3 linked regions of the Homo sapiens genome follow. The protein of the gene in region 1 purifies or fractionates together with the protein of each later gene. This does not show direct contact. Each region holds a gene or a part of one and is shown on either strand. Other genes may lie near its edges.

Evidence for each region.
Region 2: the proteins of GATC (region 1) and PDPR purify together in Homo sapiens (affinity purification with mass spectrometry; 2 studies listed by BioGRID and IntAct, with this or other methods). This does not show direct contact.
Region 3: the proteins of GATC (region 1) and HIBCH purify together in Homo sapiens (affinity purification with mass spectrometry; 2 studies listed by BioGRID and IntAct, with this or other methods). This does not show direct contact.

The regions. Positions count from the first base shown.
Region 1 is NC_000012.12:120,456,440-120,463,463, forward strand, and holds part of GATC (glutamyl-tRNA(Gln) amidotransferase subunit C, mitochondrial), read left to right. Parts: intron 1-636; coding exon 637-740; intron 741-3,467; coding exon 3,468-3,520; 3' UTR 3,521-5,579; coding exon of another isoform or gene 5,580-5,723; 3' UTR 5,724-7,024. Other genes in the region: SRSF9 (serine/arginine-rich splicing factor 9), read right to left, coding at 5,580-5,723. UniProt on the Homo sapiens protein: Allows the formation of correctly charged Gln-tRNA(Gln) through the transamidation of misacylated Glu-tRNA(Gln) in the mitochondria. The reaction takes place in the presence of glutamine and ATP through an activated gamma-phospho-Glu-tRNA(Gln).
Region 2 is NC_000016.10:70,109,855-70,117,349, reverse strand, and holds the start of PDPR (pyruvate dehydrogenase phosphatase regulatory subunit, mitochondrial isoform 1 precursor), read right to left. Parts: upstream 3,019-7,495; 5' UTR 2,910-3,018; intron 2,530-2,909; 5' UTR 2,420-2,529; exon of another isoform or gene 275-2,419; intron 1-274. UniProt on the Homo sapiens protein: Decreases the sensitivity of PDP1 to magnesium ions, and this inhibition is reversed by the polyamine spermine.
Region 3 is NC_000002.12:190,309,809-190,316,832, forward strand, and holds part of HIBCH (3-hydroxyisobutyryl-CoA hydrolase, mitochondrial isoform 1 precursor), read right to left. Parts: intron 989-7,024; coding exon 946-988; intron 1-945. UniProt on the Homo sapiens protein: Hydrolyzes 3-hydroxyisobutyryl-CoA (HIBYL-CoA), a saline catabolite. Has high activity toward isobutyryl-CoA. Could be an isobutyryl-CoA dehydrogenase that functions in valine catabolism. Also hydrolyzes 3-hydroxypropanoyl-CoA.

The DNA of each region.
Region 1 (7,024 bases):
AACATCCTTAAGTTACTCTTGTGGCAAGTTTGCTTCCCCATCTCTGCTTAGCTTTCCAGCTTCATCTTCCACCCCGGCAGACCACACCCCAGCCTGCTAAACTCCCTGTCCTTCTCTGAATCTCTGAGCTCTCGGCTCTATTGCTTTGGGATTCATGCTGCTATACGTGCCAGGAAGTCCATTTCTCATACCTTCATCCCCCAATCCAGCTATTTCTTGCCCATCCTTGAACAGTGACATCAGCTATTCTGAGGATGTGCTACTCACGCAGGCTGGACTAGGTACCCTTTCTATCCTTTGGCAGGCTGTACTAACCTCTGTTAGATTTAAAATATTGTTTTTGTAATTGCTTTTACCTGTCCCCACCAAAAGACAGTTGCCCATATAATCATCAAAAACTATTTGTTAAATCAATCCAGAGAAGTAATTAGCACTTACTTCTCAGGGTTGTTCGGTCAATCTATAAACTGTAGGCTGTTATTTGGTCTACTGTTGATCCCAGCTTCTCTATCTTTGAACAGTGCCCATTAACTCAAGAATATACTGCTTCCTTGTTCTCTCCTTCTTGCCCCTCTCCATCATCCCCTAAAAGCCCCCTTCTCTGAGAGGGTAACCTTGAGCTTCTGGGTTTTGTAGATGTCTATACCTGAGATCCGACAATGTGGTAGAAGGCAACTGTGCTGATGAATTACTACAAAACTCCCATCGCGTCGTGGAGGAGTACTTTGTGGCCCCCCCAGGTACGTGCTGCCCAGAATGGTTTAACAGATAGTCTCACAGTAACCTTAGGAATGAAGCAGGAAGCATGAGGACCAAAGATGCTATGTGAAGGCACTTTGAAAAGGATGAAGTGCATACAGATGGTGGCATTAAGGTGGCAGTAGGGTCCAGGGTCATACTCACCTCTAGGGGGCAGTTAGTAACAGGAACAAGCAAAACAGGATTGGGGGCATGCGGGAGGTTTAAAGTAGGTGGAAATCTGGAGCTCAAGATCTCCCTAAAGGGGCAGCTGGCATTCAGTGTTTCTCAAAGCCACAGTTAAGACCCTGCCAGATCCTGTAATCGACTCCAACTTTCTAGTATTCATACCATGAATAAATATTTGTTAGGTCTAGCTTTGGGCTGGGTACCACAAAAAAACCAGTCCTTTCCTAAAAGAATCCTTTTTTTTTTTTTTTTTTTTTGAGACGGAGTTTCGCTCTTGTTGCCCAGGCTGGAGTGCAATGGTGCAATCTCGGCTCACCGCAACCTCCACCTCCCGGGTTCAAGCGATTCTCCTGCTCAGGCTCCCCAGTAGCTGGGATTACAGGCATGCACCAGCACGCCTGGCTAATTTTTTGTATTTTTAGTAGAGACAGGGTTTCACTGTGTTAGCCAGGATGGTCTCGATCTCCCGACCTCAGGTGATCCACCCACCTCGGCCTCCCAAAACGAATCTTATTGTGACAACTTAGTTATCATGTGTGGCCTTAGCCCAGATGTTTCTGTCACATCTTTGCCTATGACATGATTCAAACGCCATTAGGGTCTGCCCTCAGTCTGTGCCCATTCAAAGCAGGAGGAGCATGGCTGCTACCCTATCAGTGTTGCCAGGCAGGAATGTAAACCCATTTCTCCAGAGAACCTGGATACCTGACATTTTGTGTGATATTTCTTAAATTTTTTTTTTTTTTTTTGAGATGGAGTCTCGCTCGGTCACCCAGGCTGGAGTGCAATCTTGACTCACTGCAACCTCTGCCTCCCGGGTTCAAGCAATTCTCTGCCTCAGCCTGCCGAGTAGCTGGGATTACAGGTGCCTGCCACCATGCCTGGCTAATATTTTTGTATTTTTAGTAGAGGCAGGATTTCACCATCTTGGCCAGGCTAGTCTTGAACTGGTGATCTACCCGCCTCAGCCTCCCAAAGTGCTGGGATTACAGGGGTGAGCCACTGCACCCCGCCGATATTTCTTAAATTTTAAGTGCTAGCAACCAATTCAAAATTTAAAAAACAAAATACCATCCAAGCCAAATAAAACACATCTGCAAGCCAGGTGCAGTCTGTGAGCCATCAGTTTACAACAGCTGGTATAGAGATTTGCATCATCTACCTACTGTAAATATTTTAAATAGAAGCTTTAAAATTACTCTGGGCTGACAGTAAAATCCAGAACCTTGGATAGGTTGACTGTTTTTATCTCCTCTGCAGGTAGGTGAATACTTGGAGCTGTTGTACTACCCCTCTGGGCATCTGGGAGTGGGACTAGCCAAAAGCAATCAGGTAGCCTGCTAAGTGCCAACTTCCAGTTCAGGATATCCTGAGGGAGAATCATTCTGAGCAGACTCCACAGAAGACATTGGCCCTGGTCAGCTTAAGGTGCCAGTTAAAGGCAGGCTCTGGTTGATGCAAGGATGGGAAAGAAAGCTAGAAATTTTGTGAGCTAAACTTTTTGTTTGTTTTGAGACGGAGTCTTGCTCTGTTGCCCAAGCTGGAGTGCAGTGGCGCGATCTCGGCTCACTGCAAGCTCCACCTTCCACGTTCATGCCATTCTCCTGCCTTAGCCTCCCAAGTAGCTAGGACTACAGGCGCCCACCACAACGCCTGGCTAATTTTTTGTATTTTTAGTAGAGACGGGGTTTCACCGTGTTAGCCAGGATGGTCTCTCTCTCCTGACCTCGTGATCGTCCGCTTCGGCCTCCCAGAGTGCTGGGATTACAGGTGTGAGCCACCGCACCCGGCCGTGAGCTAAACTCTTAATCATGCCTCCAATCCACTAAACCACCTGTTAACTGTGGAGAGAAAGGAGACTCTCCATCTCAGAGCCTGATAGTTGTGGCTCCAGCAGAAATATCTTTTGATCAGACATGCTATCTCCCACACAGAACCTTACTTCAGACTTTGCTTTTTGGGACCACCTGAGTTCATGGTCAGTGTTTCCTTCTAGTCCTATCTGCATATTAGTGGCTAATCAACCTGTATACTCCTTACTGAAAAAGGTGAATTTGGCTACACTTAGAACTGATTCTTTCAGATACTCCCAGTTAGGAAAACAGGACAGTAGCTACATTACTTCCATATTTTCCATGAGAAAGTAGTGATCAGTTAGCTCAGTAGAGCCAGCTGGGCGGCAGGCTCAGCTATAACATTCTCTGTTGTGGCCGGGCGCGGTGGCTCATGCCTGTAATCCTAGCACTTTGGGAGGCCGAGGAGGGCGGATCACGAGGTCAGGAGATCGAGACCATCCTGGCTAACACGGTGAAACCCCGTCTCTATTAAAAATACAAAAAATTAGCCGGGAGAGGTGGCGGGCGCCTGTAGTCCCAGCTACTCTGGAGGCCGAGGCAGGAGAATGGCGTGAACCCCAGGGGGCGGAGCCTGCAGTGAGCTGAGATTGCGCCACTGCACTCCAGCCTGGGCAACAGCGAGACTCTGTCTCAAAACAAAAACAAACAAACAAACAAAAATTCTCTTTTGTTATTTTCAAACAGGTAATATCTCTTTGCCAAAGCTGGATGAACAAGAGCCATTCCCACACAGCTGAGTAGCTCATTCTGGAAAGGGGGTACTCTGTGAACATGTGGAAGCATAATGACAGTATTTTTTTACTGTGAATACTAATGTTCCTGCTTTTTTCAGTCCCCTGAAAAAATGGATGCTCAAGCATTTCTTAATAACAGATTCTTCTGAAGACAGAATTGGGAAAGATCTGGCCCCAACAAGGCAGTGAGTTCCTGATGCTAACTGAGGTGAAAGAAAAGCAAAAGTCAGCTTCCAAGGAATTCACTTAACAGGCCTGTTCAGTATGGAAGACATTATTTATCTGCCTTTAACTCCCCCCAAAGGACCATACCAACTGCATGAAAGTGAACTTTTCTATCTACGTAACTGGTAGACGGAGCATCTTGATCACTATGTGACAACCTTGGCTGTCATTTTTAGTTGCCATTTGCATTGATTTGAGCAGCCCTATCTTTACCGAACATACCTGAATTTGTTCCTGGGCTCCCACTTTCTTCCCAGAAGAGGGCTAACTTCCTACTAAGGTCTGAAGAGTGTTGAAAGTAGACTAGAGCTTGGGAACTCCTAACCTAGAACTATCTGCCATCCCACAAAGTGATTATATGCCAAAGGGATACTAGTCATACCTAGTGTTTCTCTTTCTGAAAAGAGAACTTATCCTAAAATTAGCCCTGGGCCTGGGACAAAGGAGCCCTCTCCGCCCCCAAAATGATTATTAAATTGAGATGAGTCCAGGATAAAACTCAGATACCAAGGATAAATGAAACTTATTTAGGGATAAAAGTGGGCTGGGCGCAGTGGCTCACTCCTGTAATCCCAGCACTTTGGGAGGCTGAGACGGGCGGATCACAAGGTCAGGAGATCAAGACCATCCTGGCTAATGCGGTGAAACCTCATCTCTACTAAAAATACAAAAAATTAGCTGGGTGTGATGACAGGTGCCTGTAGTCCCAGCTACTCGGGAGGCTGAGGCAGGAGAATGGCGTGAACCCGGGAGACGGAGCTTGCAGTAAGCCGAGATCGCACCACTGCACTCCAGCCTGGGCGACAGAGCAAGTCTCAAAAAAAAAAAAAAAGTGATAGAATCAGAGAGTTTTTCCTCTAACCAAACTGCCAAAGTTGGTTTTGGCTAAGAATTTCCCAATAATATTTATGCTGCTGCTCATTTTTTTAGTTTTCTGAGACAGGGGTCTCCCTCTGTCACCCAGGCTGGAGTGCAGTGGTGACAGATCACTGCAGCCTCCAACTCCTGGGCTCAAGTGATCCTCCCACCTCAGCCTCCTAAGTAACTGGGACTACATATGTGCATCACCACGTCCAGTTAATTTTTTTTTAAGTAGAGGTGGGGGTTTTGCTATGTTGCCTATCTGGTCGTGAACTCCTGGCCTCAAGGGATCCTCTGGCATGCCTTGGCCTCCCAAAGGGCTAGGATCACAGGCAAAAGCCACCGTGTGTTTATTTTTCCCATTCCCTTCCTTTATCTGCAATGCTTTTTTCTTTAAGGCAGCCTAATTTACAAGCTTGGCCTTGAATTAAAAGAGAACCCAGAACCCGCTCTTGGAGTTTACGTTCTCAAACCAACATCAGAGCAACTGTCTATCCCCATATAAATAAAGTTATCTACCCCTGCTCCTAACTGGGTACAAGTTATGACTACAACTCAGTGATTTTTTAAATTAGTGTGCCTATTTGGTGAAATCTGTGAACTTAATCAAGGACAACCACACATGTCAATTACTAAACATTTAAAATATATTTCTAAACAGAATGGGCCGACTCAGTCACAGTAACTGTTGATCTCCATAGTAGAGCAACCCACAAAGACAGAACTGATTTTTTTCCCATAATCAGGGGTGAAAAATATACAACTTGTTTCTGAACCAAAACCACAATTTCTGCAGTTTAAAATGTTTCACTGCTAATATGGCCCTGGTAGAAATTATGTAGTTTTTTTTCTTCTTTAAAAAAAAAAAATTAAAAAAATTTCCTAAGACACTAAATCCTCAATCTGGAATGTAGATTCTGAGCACAAAGCAGCTCAGTTAACCTAAAAAATAAAGAAAAAATTCCCATCACCTGTCTCAGTAGGGCCTGAAAGGAGAGAAGTAGTGTGGGGAACCCCTGCTTTGGTATGGAGAGTCACGGCCCCTTGACCCAGACCGAGACCGTGAGTAGCCATAGCTGGTGCTTCTCTCAGGATAAACTCGGATGTAGGAAGTTTCACCCTGAAATGCAAACAAAAACAAAAAGAGTAAAGGGGAAAAAAATCAGAGCCAGAAGAATAAGCAAACCAACATCTAACAATAATAGTTAAGTATTGAGCACTTACTGTGTACTCTGTGCCTGGCATGAGGCTATCTCATTAAACCTTCATAACATTATGAGGTAGGTACTCTTACTATCCCATTTCAAGAATGAAGAAAATTAAGACTTAAGTTATATCATTTGCCCAAGGTAACACAATAAATGCCAATTTGACATGTTGATACTCAATTAACTATGATAAACAATATATCTGAATTACTGCCATTGACCCCCCTCAAAGCTAAGAACTGGAAAGGATCTCAGGGGTCATATAGTTTAATCCCCTGCCACCTCATGTATGCATCTTTGGATGGGCATCTATGGAAGGAGCTAGCCTGTATTTAATACCTTCCAGATGTGAGGACCTGAGCTAGATGCTTTAGACGTTATCCTCTTGCTCTAGATTCCTGGCAAGTCTTGTGATGGTGCTATTATGTGACCATTTTGCCCATGAAGGAATCGAGGTCCCAAGAGTAGTTCAGGTAAGGAATTAATAAGCAGCAGAGGAGTCATGTCCAGGCTGGCTTGTCCCCAGGCCCTCTGCCTTCAGCCACCATTCTCAGAAGATCCAAAGATGCCAAGGGGAAAGAAGCCGGATGCTTTTTCACCTTAGGTGAAAGTCAGTAATTGGAGTTACCCTTTCTGAGGCCCTGCTTTGCAGTATAACTGAGGATCAGGTGCTGTTCTGTTTCTGCTTCAAATTCAAGTCCTAGAGGACAGTCTGAACAAAAGCATCATTAAACCAGGGAAGGACCAACCTCTAAGCCAAAAACTAGGCAATTATATGAATCCTCAGAAAAAGAAATGAGCCCAGAGACCTGTGTCCCCAAACATCCGTAAATCTCATAGTAAGGCAGGACAGGATAACCAGAAAAAAACAATGTCCAACTGGTCTGGTTTCTGGTCTCAATGGTACCAAAGGGATAGTCACCACCTCAATCAAACTGAGATCCAAAACAGCAGCTGCTTTCCTACAAGGAAAGACATCAAGAACTACTGAGTCTGAAGGGTGACATAATCAACCACAAGAAAATGTTACGGTTTAGCCTGGCACAGTGGTGCATGCCTGCAGTCCCAACTACTGGAGAGGCTGAGGTGGGAGGACTGCTTGGGCCCAGGAGTTCAAGGTCAGCCTCGGCAATATAATGAGACTGTCTCTAAAATCAAAAATTAGAGAAATATAAAAATTATAAAATTAAAAAAGAAAATGTCATGATAGCTC
Region 2 (7,495 bases), on another chromosome or scaffold:
GGAGAGACGGGGTTTCACCATGTTAGCCAGGATGGTCTCAATCTCCCGACCTCGTGATCCGCCTGCCTTGGCCTCCCAAAGTGCTGGGATTACAGGCATGAGCCACTGTGACCGGCAAATAATTTTTAAAGCTAATATTTTTATAAGTAGTTACAATGCACCAGATACTGCCTATATATATAACTAATTTAATCCTCACAACCTTATGAGGTAGATACTAGCATTTCTATTCTACACTTGAGGAAACAGGCACAGATAAGTGGAAGTGACTCACCCAAGGTCCTACCAAACTGTTGAGTAGCAGAACCCTGCCAATTTGGCATTAGTGGCCGGCTATTTAATCATGACTCCACGCTACCTTTCAAATAAAAGCAGATGGTAAGGAAAGGACAGCTGTGAGGACTGAACCATTAAGCACATTCCCCTAACAGAGAAAGGGAATTGCAAAGGTGGCAGAACAAACACAGTAACAGATGAGTTTTAAGGTGGAATTAAAAAAAAAACTTTAGGCCGGGCGCCATGTCTCACGCCTGTTATCTCAGCACTTTGGGAGGCCGAGGCGGGTAGATCATTTGAGGTCGGAAGTTGGAGACCAGCCTGGCAAACATGGTGAAACCCCGTCTCTACCAAAGATACAAAAAATTAGCTGGGTGTGGTGGCACGCACCTGTGGTCCCAGGTACTCATGGTGCGGCCACCATTGCATCTTGGGCCTCACTAACCAGTTCCCGTTTGTTGGATTCAATACTCTCTCACCACACAGGCCAATCTTGTGTTTTATTAATTTTTTTAATTTTTTTTTTTTTTTTGTAGAGAGGGGCTCACTATGTTGCCCAGGCTGGTCCTGAACTCCTGAGGTAGGAGGATCGCTTGAGCCTGGGAGACAGAGGTTGCAGTGAGCCGAGATTATGCTACTGCACTCCTGCCTGGGTGACACAGTGAGACTCTGTCTTAAACAAAACAAAACAAAGAAAGGCCAGGCGCAGGGGCTCACACCTGTAATCCTAGCACTTTGGGAGGCCAAGGTGGGTGGATTATTTGAGGTCAGGAGTTTGAGACCAGCCTGATCAGCATGGTGAAACCCCGTCTCTACTAAAAACAGAAAAATTAGCCAGGTGTCGTGGCTTGCACCTGTAGTCCCAGCTACTCAGGAGGCTGAGACAGGAAAATTGCTTCAACCAGGGAGATGGAGGCTGCAGTGGGCAGATTCGCGCCACTGCCTGGGTGACACAGTGAGACTCCATCTCAAAAAAGCCCAGGGTGCTTGGCGCCAAAAAAGGGATCTCTGACCTTGTGTTCATTATGACCTTCAAAAGAGTGAAGTGGTGAGGGCATGAGGGCAGAGGAAAAGAAGGGCTTAAGACAACGAAGGAAAAGAAGGCACCAGAGTCTAGTGCCTTTGCCGCCAAACCTAAACCTATAAGGTTGGCAGCAAAACCAAAGCACAAACTGATAACAAAGGAGGTAAAGCCAGGGGAGAAGAAACTGAAGACGTCAAAGACAGAAATGAAGCACATCATCTGGTTTAAAACAAATGATAGAGTTTTTACAGTTCTGGAAAATGACCGTATAATATTCTCTGCTAAGAAGAATAACTTCTGCTAAACAACCATAAGACTGCAGCTGGCTCTACTCAGATCTGCTTATTCCAACAAGACCAAGGTGCTAGTTCTAACTTCGAGTTGTCCCTCTGTATGGCTGCAGCGTTGCGCACAGTGGACTGCCGGTCACAAGGAAGACTGGATGAGCGTGGGTTCACACAACATTTCCCACACTTGCCTCAGCAAAAGAACCACCTGGGACACTTGTTTAAAAATGACAGATTCCCACGGTCCACCTCGGCAGATTCTGATCCTGCCACTCCAGGGAGCTGTATTTTTCAACAAGTACACCAGGTGATCACGCAAGTTTAAGAAATTAACACAAGTTGGCCGAGCGCAGTGGCTCACGCCTGTAATCCCAGCACTTTGGGAGGCTGAGGCGGGAGAATCACGAGGTCAGGAGTTCGAGACCAGCCTGGCCAACATAGTGAAACCCCGTCTCTACTAAAAACACAAAAATTAGCCGGGCGTGGTGGCGCACACCTGTATTCCCAGCTACTTGGGAGGCTGAGGCAGGAGAATTGCTTGAACCCAGGAGGCAGAGGTTGCAGTGAGCCGAGATCGCGCCACTGCACTCCCGCCTGGGCGACAGAGTGAAACTCTGTCTCGGAAAAAAGAAAAAAAAAGAAAAAAGAAATTAACACAAGTCCCTGCCACTGGAAAAGCTTATCCGTCAGGCTGGCTCCTCCTCCACCACCAGACCCCATCCCGGTACATCACGTTTACATGCATGCGGAAAATGGGCTTGGAGATTCTTGATTCAAATCCGAGGTATCACACATCGGCCCCCAAAGGTCAAACATTAAGAAGGAAGCTTACTGCCCTGTCCCAGATTTTTCTAGGTGACTTCTTCCTCCGGACTCTGCAGCAGTCTTTAGTTCTAAAAGCACAAGCGGACCGCACGTCTCAACGCGGGAAAACAGTTCCATCTGCAGGGATGGAGGACCGGGCTAGACAAGCTGGAGTTGGCTCTGCGCCGCAGGGGTGTGCAAGCCCGAGACGGGGGAGCCCGAGGTCACCCCGGCCGCCCTGGCATCGGGGCTGAAGTGCAGGCTCCTGGAGGAGCGGTGCGCACGCCCAGGGGTAGCCGAGAACACAAGCCAAGGCACGAGCGGACAACCTTACGGGGACGAGTACTGGCGCCCGGACGCGACTTCGCGAGAGGCCAGGCGGAACCCACTGGAAGCGTGAGCTAGCGGGGACCACCCCCGGGCGAAACCAAAGGAGAAAGAGGGGAACCCAGGGGTCCCGGGGCGCTTAGGCCCGCGCGGACGGGGAGGCCAGAGTTGCCCCGAAGCTATCTCCTTACCTCACCGGTCCCCACGGGCTCCGCGCTCAGCTACAGCCCGGCGGGAGCAATGCGGCAGCCACAACAGTTGCCTGGGGTCGCCGCGGGCCGGAAAGCGGGGTTCGGGGATGGGAAGGGGGCGGGGCGAAGCGAGCAAAAAGTTCCGGGGAAGCCGAGACCGCGACCTTCCGCGCTTTACGGCCCCCGGGCAAGGGTACTGCCGGCGCGTGACCTCAGCAGCGCACGAGCGCGCCGTGACGCCTTCGCGGAGCCCCGCCCCTGCCACGTGGGCTTGTTTGGGTCTCGCGAGGCACCGCCCCCGCGGCCTCTTTGCCACCCTCAGAGGCGAGCTGTGGAAGCCTTGACTCTTAGGGCCGTTTTAGAACCGGGGCCTCGGACCGGCGGGGTTTCTGCACGTGGAACCGGAACATCTGAGATGATCGCAGGCCCTGTGGAGTGTGGGGAGCGCGGGAGTTCTTTCTTCCCTCGAGGCCCGTGCCAGGGCTTACTCCAAAGCCAGTGGGTCCCCAGTCCTAAGCCAAGCAGTCCCGGGGGAAAACGCTTCTCATCGCCGTGGGAGCGCGGATCTTGGAAGTGGCTCTGGGCTTTCTTGGGCGAGGCTCTCACAGAGTAGATCGGAAATCCATTCTGCTGGCCCGCCCCACCTCGGAGGACGGACTAACGGACCTGAGTTCCCGGCCCTATCTTACTCTTCTCAGCTTCTCAGCTTGGCTCAGCTCAGAGGAAGAGGAATCACTGAAGTCTCAGAGAAGTCTCCACTCATCCCTTCCTCACTGTCACATCAGCCTTTTCTTTCCTTCTAGAACTCATCACTGACTCAAGGATATAAGTTTGATGACTGTCTTTTCCACTGGTGTGACACGATCTCTGTCGACAGAACCTTAGTCTTATGCATAGCTTTATTCTCAGCACCCAGAACAGTGCCTGGCACCTCTTCCACTGAATATTATATGCATAAGGGTCTCATGCTGCAGCCACCATTGCATCTTGGGCCACACTATCCAGTTCCCGTTTGTTGGATTCAATACTGTCTCACCACACAAACCAATCTTGTGTTTTATTAATTTAAAAAAAATTTTTTTTTTGTAGAGATAGGCTCACTATGTTGCCTAGGCTGGGCCTGAACTCCTGGCCTCAAGTGATCCTTCCATCTCAGCCTCCCAAAGTCCTGGGATTACAGGCGTGAGCCACTGTGCCTGCCCCAATCTTGTGTTTTATTGCTGGCCACCTGTAGCCAGGCACTGTGCAGGATGATGGGATCCAGCAATGTACAAGAAAGAGGCGGTTTCTGCTCTTAGGGAGTGGCAGTCAAGTTCCAGGGACCCCTCTGTCACAAGGCCAGGCCACAGCCTACATAGTTTATACCCCATTTACTGGCCAGTCAAATCACACAAAGACAGCCCAGATGAGGTCTGCCAGACAGTGGACTGAAACTATGCCATAGGCTCCTGTGCTAGATAAATACTTCCATATTTTAGCTAGGATTGAATGCTTGGGGACACCTACCTGTCTAAAAAAAGAGAAAACGGCTGACCAATTTGAGACATTCTCGGGGAAGGCTTTCCTGATGCCCAGATGTGGCGATTTCATGAAAAATATCACAGGTTTTCCTCATGAACCATTTGGTTCAAGCCATTTCCAGGCACATGAATTTGGGAGAAACCTGGTTGTCTGCAGGAGATGGTGGATGAAATCAAGTGAAATACTTAATGTGTTGATTTCATTCTGTTTACGTGCAGTAAATAGCAAACAAATGGTGTAGATCTGTCCCTGATTTCCTTCTCCATCACCATGATCGGCCTCCACTCCAAAATGCTAAGTCAGGCTGGGTGCGGTGGCTCATGCCTGTAATGCCAGCACTTTGGGAGGCCAAGGCAGTTGGATCACGTGAGGTCAGAAGTTCGAGACCAGCCTGATCAATATGGTGAAACCCCATCTCTACTAAAAAATACAAAAATTAGCTGGGCGTGGTGGCACATGCCTGTAATCCCAGCTACTTTGGGAGGCTGGGACAGGAGAATTGCTTAAACCCAGGAGGCGGAGGTTGCAGTGAGCCAAGATTGTGTCACTGCACTCTAGCCTAGGCGACAGAGCGAGACTGTCTCAAAAAAAAAAAAAAAAGGGAAGTAAGTCCTAAGGCCCCTTTCATTGTCAAAGATGGGTCTTGTCCTTAGTAGGTTCTCATAACCACTGATGCACTATTTTTTCTAGGGGATTGAGTGTTTTTATTTTATTATTATTTTTTAGATGGAGGCTCACTCTGTTGCCCAGGCTGGAGTGCAATGGTGTGGTCTCGGTTCACTGCAACCTCTGCCTCCCAGGTTCAGGGGATTCTCCTACCTCAGCCTCCCCAGTAGCTGGGACTGTACAGGCGTGCGCCACCACGCTGGGCTAATTTTTGTATTTTTATTAGAGACAGGGTTTCGCTATGTTGGCCAGGCTGGTCTCAAACTCCTGACCTCGTGATCTGCCCACCTAGGCCTCCCAAAGTGCTGGAATTACAGGCGTGAGCCACCGCGTCCAGCCTATTTTTATTTTTTGAGATTAGCTCTCACCCTGTCACCCAGGCTGGAGCACAGTGGTGCAATCACGGCTCACTGCAGTCTTAACTTCCTGGGCTCTAGCGATTCTCCCACCTCAGCCTCCCGAATAGCTGAGACCTCAGGCGCGTGCCACCGTCCCCAGCTAACTTTTGTATTTTTTGGTAGAGGTGGGGTTTCACTATGTTGCTGAGGCTGGCATTAAACTCCTGACCTCAAGAGATCCACCTGCCTTGGCCTCCCAATGTGCTGGGATTAGAGGCATGAGCCACCATGTCTTGCCCTAAACAGACGTTTTAATTACGCTTGTCAAGTCCTCTTGTGAAATCTTCATCTGCAGTGACTTGGTAAATGTATTTGCTACCACACAGGATAAACAGTGTACAGACAAACATTTGACATACCTATGTTACCACAGTGTAAGAATGAATTTGGATCTGAGGTCGCTAAGATGCAGGCGTTTATCTTACCTCCCTGCAGCACCGGCATGGCTGTGGGGAAGGCCTCCCTCCTCCCTCTGAAGTTCTTGTCCCCATCAGTAGACTGGACATCTGCCTACAACCGACTTCACAGAAAGGACCTGACACCTGGCATGCTTCTCGTGTGCTTGAGAGCCTGTGTTTGTGTGGAAAGCAGGGATGTTCTCATTCACACCATGGGAAGAGAAGAATGTTGCGAGTAGCAATCAGTACTCTTTTTTTTTTTTTTTTTTTTTTTTTTTTTGTGAGACGGAGTCTTGCTTTGTCACCCAGGCTGGAGTACAGTGGCGCGATCTCAGCTCACTGCAAGCTCTGCCTCCCGGGTTCACGCCATTCTCCTGCATCAGCCTCCTGAGCAGCTGGGACTACAGGCACATGCCACCATGCCCAGCTAATTTTTGTATTTTTAGTAGAGACGGGGTTTCACCATGTTGGCCAGGATGGTCTCGATCTCTTGATCCACTGCGCCCAGCCAGGAACTTCTTTTTTTTTTTTTTTTTTGAGACGGAGTCTTACTGTGTCGCCAGGCTAGACTGCTGTGGTGCGATCTCGGCTCACTGCAACCTCCAACTCCCTGGTTCAAGGGATTCTCCTGCCTCTGCCTCCTGAGCAGCTGGGATTACAGGCGTGTGCCACCACACCCAGCTAAATTTTGTATTTTTAATAGAGATGGGGTTTCACTATGTTGGCCAGGATGGTCTCGATCTCCTGACCTTGTGATCCGCTCGCCTCGGCCTCCCAGAGTGTTGGGATTACAGGCGTGAGCCACTACACCCGGCCTGGAACTTCTCTCTCTTTTTTTTTTTTTTGAGACGGAGTCTCGCTCAGTCACCCAGGCTGGAGTGCAGTGGCACCATCTCGGCTCGCTGCAAGCTCCGTCTCCTGGGTTCACGCCATTCTCCTGCCTCAGCCTCCCGAGTAGCTGGGGCTACAGGCGCCCACCACTATGCCCGGCTAATTTTTTTGTATTTTTAGTAGAGATGGGGTTTCACCATGTTGGCCAGGCTGGTCTTGAACTCCTGACCTCAAGTGATCCGCCTGCCTTGGCCTCCCAAAGTGCTGGGATTAGAGGCATAAGCCACCACACCCAGCCTCACTAGTTTTATTATCCACTGACTCGACTTGCTTGAGACGATTTTACTATGGTGGTTATCAAATGGTAACTTTCTAATTCTGTAATTCCTTCTGTGTTTATTAGCTCAAGGTCTATGGGATGCAGTGTTGATAGGGTTCTGTCTACTTCACTTGCCTCTGTTCCCAGGGCCTAGCTCTCCAAGTCTTTCAACTGAAATCCCGTAGTATACCCCAGGTTCCCTCCTTTTGAGAGATCTTGAAAACTGTCTACTCAGCTCATTGCAACCTCTGCCTCCCAGGCTCAAGCGATTCTCCTTCTTCAGCCTCCTGAGCTGGGATTACAGGCACACGCCACCATGCCTGGCTAATTTTTGTATTTTTAGCAGAGATGGGGTTTCTCCATGTTGGCCAGGTTGGTCTTGAACTCCTAACCTCAAGTGATCCACCCACCTTGGCCTCCCAAAGTGCTGGAATTACTGATTTCTTTCTTTCT
Region 3 (7,024 bases), on another chromosome or scaffold:
TCGGCCTCCCAAAGACTATGCTAGATTTTTTAATGCATTATTGTGATGGTTAATATTGACTGTCAACGTGATTGGATTGAAGGATGAAAAGTATTTTTCCTGGGTATGTCTGTGCAGGTATTGCCAAAGGAGATTAACATTCAAGTCGGTGGACTGGGAGAGGCAGACCCACCCTCAGTCTGAGTGGGCACCATCTAATCAGCTTCCAGAGTGGCTAGAATAAAAGCAGGCAGAAGTTGGAAGGACTTGACTTGCTGAGTCTTCCAGCCTTCATCTTTCTCCGGCACTGGATGCTTCCTGCCTTCAAACATCAGCTTCCAAGTTCTTCAGCTTTTGAACTCTTGGACTTATACCAGTGGTTTGCCAGAGGCTCTTGGGCCTTTGGCCACAGACTGGAGGCTGCACTGTCAGCTTCCTAACTTGTGAGGTTTTGGGACTCAGACTGATCCATCACTGGCTTCCTTGCTCCTCAATTTGCGGACGGCCTATCATGGGACTTTATCTTGTGATCATGTGAGTCAATTCTCCTTAATAAACTCCCTTTCATATATACATATGTCCTATAAGTTCTGTCCTTCTAGAGAACACTGATTAATACAATTATCTTATTTATCATTTATAAGCACTCTAAGGTAGATATTATTATTATTCTCACTTTATACATATCAAAAGGGAAGCTGTAAGAGACCAAGTAATCCACCCAAGATTAAGTAGTGAACCCATTATTTAAACTCAGGCATTCTGACTTGTAAGAACCATGGTTTTAACCATAATCTTATGCCACCTCCTACAAGGTGCGTGTGCCATGTCTTGACACTCAGTTGAGAACCATGATGTACCTAAGGTCAAGGAAATCTGCCATACCAGTATTTCTCTACTTCTCTAACAATGACATTTTAAGTTACACATACAAATAATGCCAGCAAAACAAACACAATAACTTACCAAATGGTGCAGTATGGTATTAGTCCTTTTGAATGCATTAAACCTGAAACAAATGTGGAAAACAATGAGAACAGTAATGTGGGTAGTCATGTCTCAGTTGACAAATAGTATATCACCTTTTGTTTCAGCCTCTTCTAAAAGGTATTACCAGAACAAAAAGTTTTAAAAGGTTTAGCTCTCATTCACTGCTGGTAGGAACATTAAATGGTACAGCCACTTTGCACATGAATTTTATGGTAACTTTATTCATAACTGCCAAAATGTGGACGTAACCAAGATGTTCTTCAATGGTTGGAAGACAAACCAATTTCAATACAACCATATAAAATATTATTCAGCCATGAAAAAAAGAAAAGAGCTATTATGCCACAAAAAAAATTGGACGAAACTTAAATGCATACATACTACTAAGCAAAAGAAGCCAGTCTGAAAAGGCTACATACTCTCATTTCAACTGTATGATATTCTGAAAAGGGCAAAATTATGAAATCAGTAGAAAGATCAATGGTTGCCAGGGGTTTGGGGGACGGAAGGAGGGATGAACAGTTGAAACACAGGAGATGTTTAGGGCAGTGAAACTAATCTGTATGATACTGTAATGGTTGATACATGTCCTTATTATTTGTCAAACTTTTCTGCTCAAATTTGCAGGTCATTTTTTCCATCAACTTATAACTACTCTAAAAAATAAAGTCATTAATCTTAAGAAAAAAGGTTTGTTAAAGATGCAATACAAACAGCATTCTCAGACACTAGAGAGAGGTATAAATTGGTACTGCCTTTCCGGTAAACAGTCTGGAAATACAAATCCACAGCCTTTAAAATGATCACACCCTTCAATCCACTAATTCCGCAAGCATTTGCACTAGGGAAATCTCAGAAATATGACCAAAGTCTGATTGATAAATATGTTCACATTATTTACAGGATGGAAAAACTGAAAACAAAGTAAATGTCTAAGAGTAGAGCATTATTTTAAAGACTGTGTCTATTAATACAGCCATTACACAACCACTAAAAATACTAACATGGAAAAGTAGTGACAAATCACAAAAGGAGAGCAGGCTACAAAACAATAAACACAACACACTTCTATTTTTTGCTGTCTTAAAAGTGCTTGTTGGGCTAGGAATACAAAGCCTGAGACACAGCTTGACCAAAGTGACCACTAATAATGGACATGAGAATGGTGAGGGTGGGGGCACCTGGGAAGGGGCATGAACAAACACGGAATGTTGGAAATTGTCTCTATCCCAATGCTGATTACAGGACTGCAGGTATAAGTTCACTAAGCTATAAACTTCAGAACGGTGTACTCAAGTGCCTTATGTAAATTATAATAAGAAAGTAAAAGACAACACCGGGAACGGCAGTGATTGAGAGAGGCATGAGGAGGGCCTCTGGAATGCTTGTTTCTCGATCCAGGTGCTGGTGATTTAGGTATGTTTCATTTGTGAAAATTCATCAAGTTGTATCATTATGCTTTGGGCTTTTTAAAAAATGTCCTAAAAGACATAGCTCTTGCACTCGAGAAACCCACAACGTAATGACAGATGTGCAAATAAAAACACTATAGTTAGAATATACTAAGATGCATGCTTTTTGTTTAAGAAGCTAAATTTAAGATCTATGGAAAGAGGTCAAAGCTAGAATCAGTAGCTGCAGCAGCCTGATAAGGGCTGTGCACATGTGCAGATACATATACCAACTAATGGAACTGATAAACTGACAATCTGTTAATTTTTCAAGAATACTCTGAGATTATATGAAGACCAACAGCCTGAGGTTTCACAAAAGGCAATATCACCAGTTACCACTTGTAACAACTTGGATGACTGAATTTATAAAAATATTTGTAATCCAACTTGCCTTTCAGAATTTATATGACTTTTTTATATTACATTCAAATTGAATAATACTATACAAAAGAGAGAAACAACCTATTTGTTTAAGTCAGTTATAATTCACATTCCTGAACTAGCATTTTCTGAATTTGTCTCACAAGTAAAATGTAGCCCAGTAATTCCAAGACTGGTCTGTACATTAGAATCACCTGGAGACTCGGCTGGGCATGGTGACTCATGCCTGTAATCCCAGCACTTTGGGAGGCCAAGGCAGGCGGATCACCTGAGGTCAGGAGTTTCAGACCAGCCTGGCCAACAAGGCGAAACCCCGTTTCCACTAAAAGTACAAAAATTAGCCAGGCATGGTGGTGGGCGCCTGTAATCCCAGCTACTCAGGAGGCTGAGGCAGGAGAATAGCTTAAACCTGGGAGGCAGAGTGTAGAAAGTAAAAAGTTTCCTCTTCAAAGTTTTTCTTCCTGTTAAAGAATAAATCATAACTGTTAGAAATAATAATTTCTTTTAAAGACTAACTTTCTTCATGCCTCCTTGCTTTGTGCTAGTAACTCTTTGTTAAGCCCTATCCTACGTAACTATTGGACATGCTCACGGGCATGTTCGAGCTCACAGCCTATTCCCCTTATTTAAAAATGTTATTGCTTCCTTAAACCTTTCATAAGCAACTTCTTTGTTCTTCCCTACACTTACCTATTTAGGCTATTAGCATATTGGGTATCAGTTTAAGAGTGTGAGGTCCCACTCCAGCCAATGGATGCAGGACACAGCATTAAGGACAACCCAAATGCGTAAGGGATAAATATGTCTGCTTTTCCTTTGTCAAGTGTGCTCTCGCCATTGTTCCATCTGCAATTGGGGACCCTTTCTGCAGAAAGTAAAAATGGCCTTGCTGATAAATCTTTTGCCTCCGTGCTGACTTTTCTTCACAACACCACTTATCTAACAATTTTGGTATTTCTAACACAGAGGTTGCAGTGAGCCGAGATTGTGCCACTGCACTCCAGCCTGGGTGACAAGAGACTCTGTCTCACAAAAAAAAAAAAAAAAAAAAAGGAATCACCTGGAGACTGCTAAAAATTCCAAAGCCCAGGTCACACCCAAGACCAATTAAATCAAACTCTGGAGGTGGGGCACAGGCACAGATACTTTGTTTGAAGCTCCCCTAAATGATTTCAAAGAACGAAGCTGTCATTAAAAATCAACACTAACACTTTATAATTATGAAACTGAAGTGACAGATCATATCTTATTTAGGGATACTTTCTAAATAAGGTTTTCATAATTACTTTTAAAGTGTGAACTACACTACCCTAAAACACCACGTCTAAAATGTTTTCAACTTGACTCAATTTTATCTTTCTGGAGATTTTAAGCATAAAAATCCAGAATGACTTTGGATTCCTTAATGAGGCCAGTACCCAAATGTAGGTTCAAGGTTCAAGAGGGTGTTGCCAGATTTGCAACTATTATGTAACAGTGTAAGTACTAACTGCAGTGTTTTAACAAGTAAACAAAGAGAACTCAGGACTAACTCCAAGTCCCAGTTTTATATATAAGACAGAATTTTATTTAACTCAAAGAAAGTTAATGTAAACCTATCAAACAAAGCCACTGTACACAATATTTATAGGTCACAAAAATCTGTGGACCAGTTACTACAAAAAAAATATATATATATGTATATATACATATATATGTGTATATATATGTATATATGTATATATACATATATATGTGTATATATACGTATATATATACGTATATATGTGTATATATATGTATATATATACGTATATATGTGTATATATATATACACACACAACCAAATTCCTTGTCAAATACTATATAATCACATTGCTTCCATTTGGTTGGTTGGTTGGTTTTGAGACAGAGTCTTGCTGTGTCACCCAGGCTGCAGCGCAGTGGCACGATCTCAGCTCACTGCAACCTCTGCCTCCCAGGTTCCAGCAATTCTCCTGCCTCAGCCTCCCGAGTAGCTGGGATTGCAGGCATGCGTCACCACACCCGGCTTATTTTTGTATTTTTAGTAGAGACGAGGTTTCTCCATGTTGGCCAGGCTAGTCTTGAACTCCCAACCTCAGGTGATCCGCCCACCTGGGCCTCCCAAAGTGCTGGGATGACAGGTGTGAGCCACCGCACCCAGCCCATTCGTTCTAATTCAAATTCAGCTGTCACTTAAAATTTGATATTAGCTTTTATACCTCAAAATGTAATTGAGAATTCAGTGTCCCCAGGTAATTCTGAATTTATGATCTTTCTTTTCTATTGGTTCCAAAACTGCCATCTGGTGGAGAGGAAGAGGGCATGCACCTCTCCGCTCCTTTTTTTTTTTGAGCCTGAGTCTCTCTCTGTCGCCCAGGCTGGAGTGCAGTGGTGCAATCTCGGCTCACTGCAGGCTCTGCCTTCCGGGTTCACGCCATTCTCCTGCCTCAGTCTCCTGAGTAGCTGGGACTACAGGTGCCTGCCACCATGCCCGGCTAATTTTTTGTATTTTTAGTAGAAACGGGGTTTCACCATGTTAGCCAGCATGGTCATGATCTCCTGACTTCTTTCTTGATCCGCCCGCCTCAGCCTCCCAAAGTGCTGAAATTACAGGCATGAGCCACTGTGCCCGGCCTGCTACTTCTAATTTCTTAATTAACTTTATCAGGCTTATTTCCTTCAACTGATGTCAACTTGGCTTTTTAGAACAGTTATTCTCAAAGTATGGTTCTTGGACAAGTACCATCAACATCCCCTGGAAACTGACTAGAAACTGAAATTCTCTGCCCCACCCCAGACCTACTGAACAAGAAACTGTGGGGCCCAGAAATCTGTGTTTAACAAACCCTCCAGGTGGTTATGATGCGTGAAGTTTAAATAAACAACTGTCTTAGATGAGAACTTTATCACTCAGGAACTTTTTGCAATTATCCAATAAAACAAACATGGCCTCACGAAATTAAACAACTACATGAAACTGCTTAAGCAGGAAGAAGACATCACAAAGTAGTGCTTAGTGAAAATTATTATCCCAGAAGTAGGCAAGGTGTGAACAGAGCAGAAAATCAAGTCCAGGAGGCCAATAATTTAGGCATGGGGTGATGAAGAACAGCAGATGTGGAAACAGAAGGGAGTGATATTATTAAGAGTTTTTATAAAGTAAAAACTCAATGGAAAGGAATGTCAAAAATGACTTTAAGATTTCAAGCCAGGACAACCAGGAGAATATAGAAAAGACAGGGAAAGAAGCTAGCTGGTTTGCAGGACGAAATACAAATTCAATTTTTTGAATTTGAATTTGTACTGACATAAGCAGAAATAGTCAACAGAAGAAAGAGACTAGAGGTTGAAAGAAAAGTTAGAACTAAAGGTATATCTTATGCCACATGCATGTACAATCACTGAGACACTGGAATCTCTCAGCTTTCTGTAAGGAATAAATGAGAAGGCTGCAGTTGAAAACTAATTGCCAGAAAGATGCCAACTGTAACTGTGGTATTGGTCAGCAGCATTTTATTTTTGTATTCTATTTATTTATTTATTTTTAGAGACAGGGTCTCACTCTGTCACCCAGGCTGGAGTGCAGTGGTATGATACATGGGCTCAAATGCAGCCTCAATCTCCTGGACTCAAGCCTCCTGAACAGCTAAGACTACAGGCGCACACCACCACACCTGGCTGATTTTTAAATTTTTTGTAGAGAGACAGTCTATGTTGCCCAGGCTGGTCTCAAATTCATGGGCTGTGATCCTCCAGCCTCAGCCACCCAAAGTGCTGGCATTACAGACTTGAGTCACCATGCCCAGCCGAGCAGTTTTAAAACTACTAACATTATCTGGATGGAATGGTAGAGATTAAAAAGAAGAAAAACAGAAAAAAACTACTAACATTTAAAAATCAAGACATTTCACCTAAAACTGCACTTTTTCCAGGTTTTCCAGAAAAATCAGTAATAATGGAAACCCTGGGTCTATATTCTATAAGGGCAACAATGGCTGGGGCTGAGAAGCTGCCTCCTCTCTAGAGCACTCTCTCCAGTTCACCAGTCCCCCATGCTGCCATCTAGCCAGCATCTTTCAATGCTTCCTTCTCAGCCTCTGCATTCAGGCTCATGATTCCTAACACAGAAAACAACCTAAAAGAGCAACAAAGATTGAGCCTTTGATCAACTAAGAAACAACTAACTAGAAGTAAAAGAGAAGACAGGCAAAGAGCAA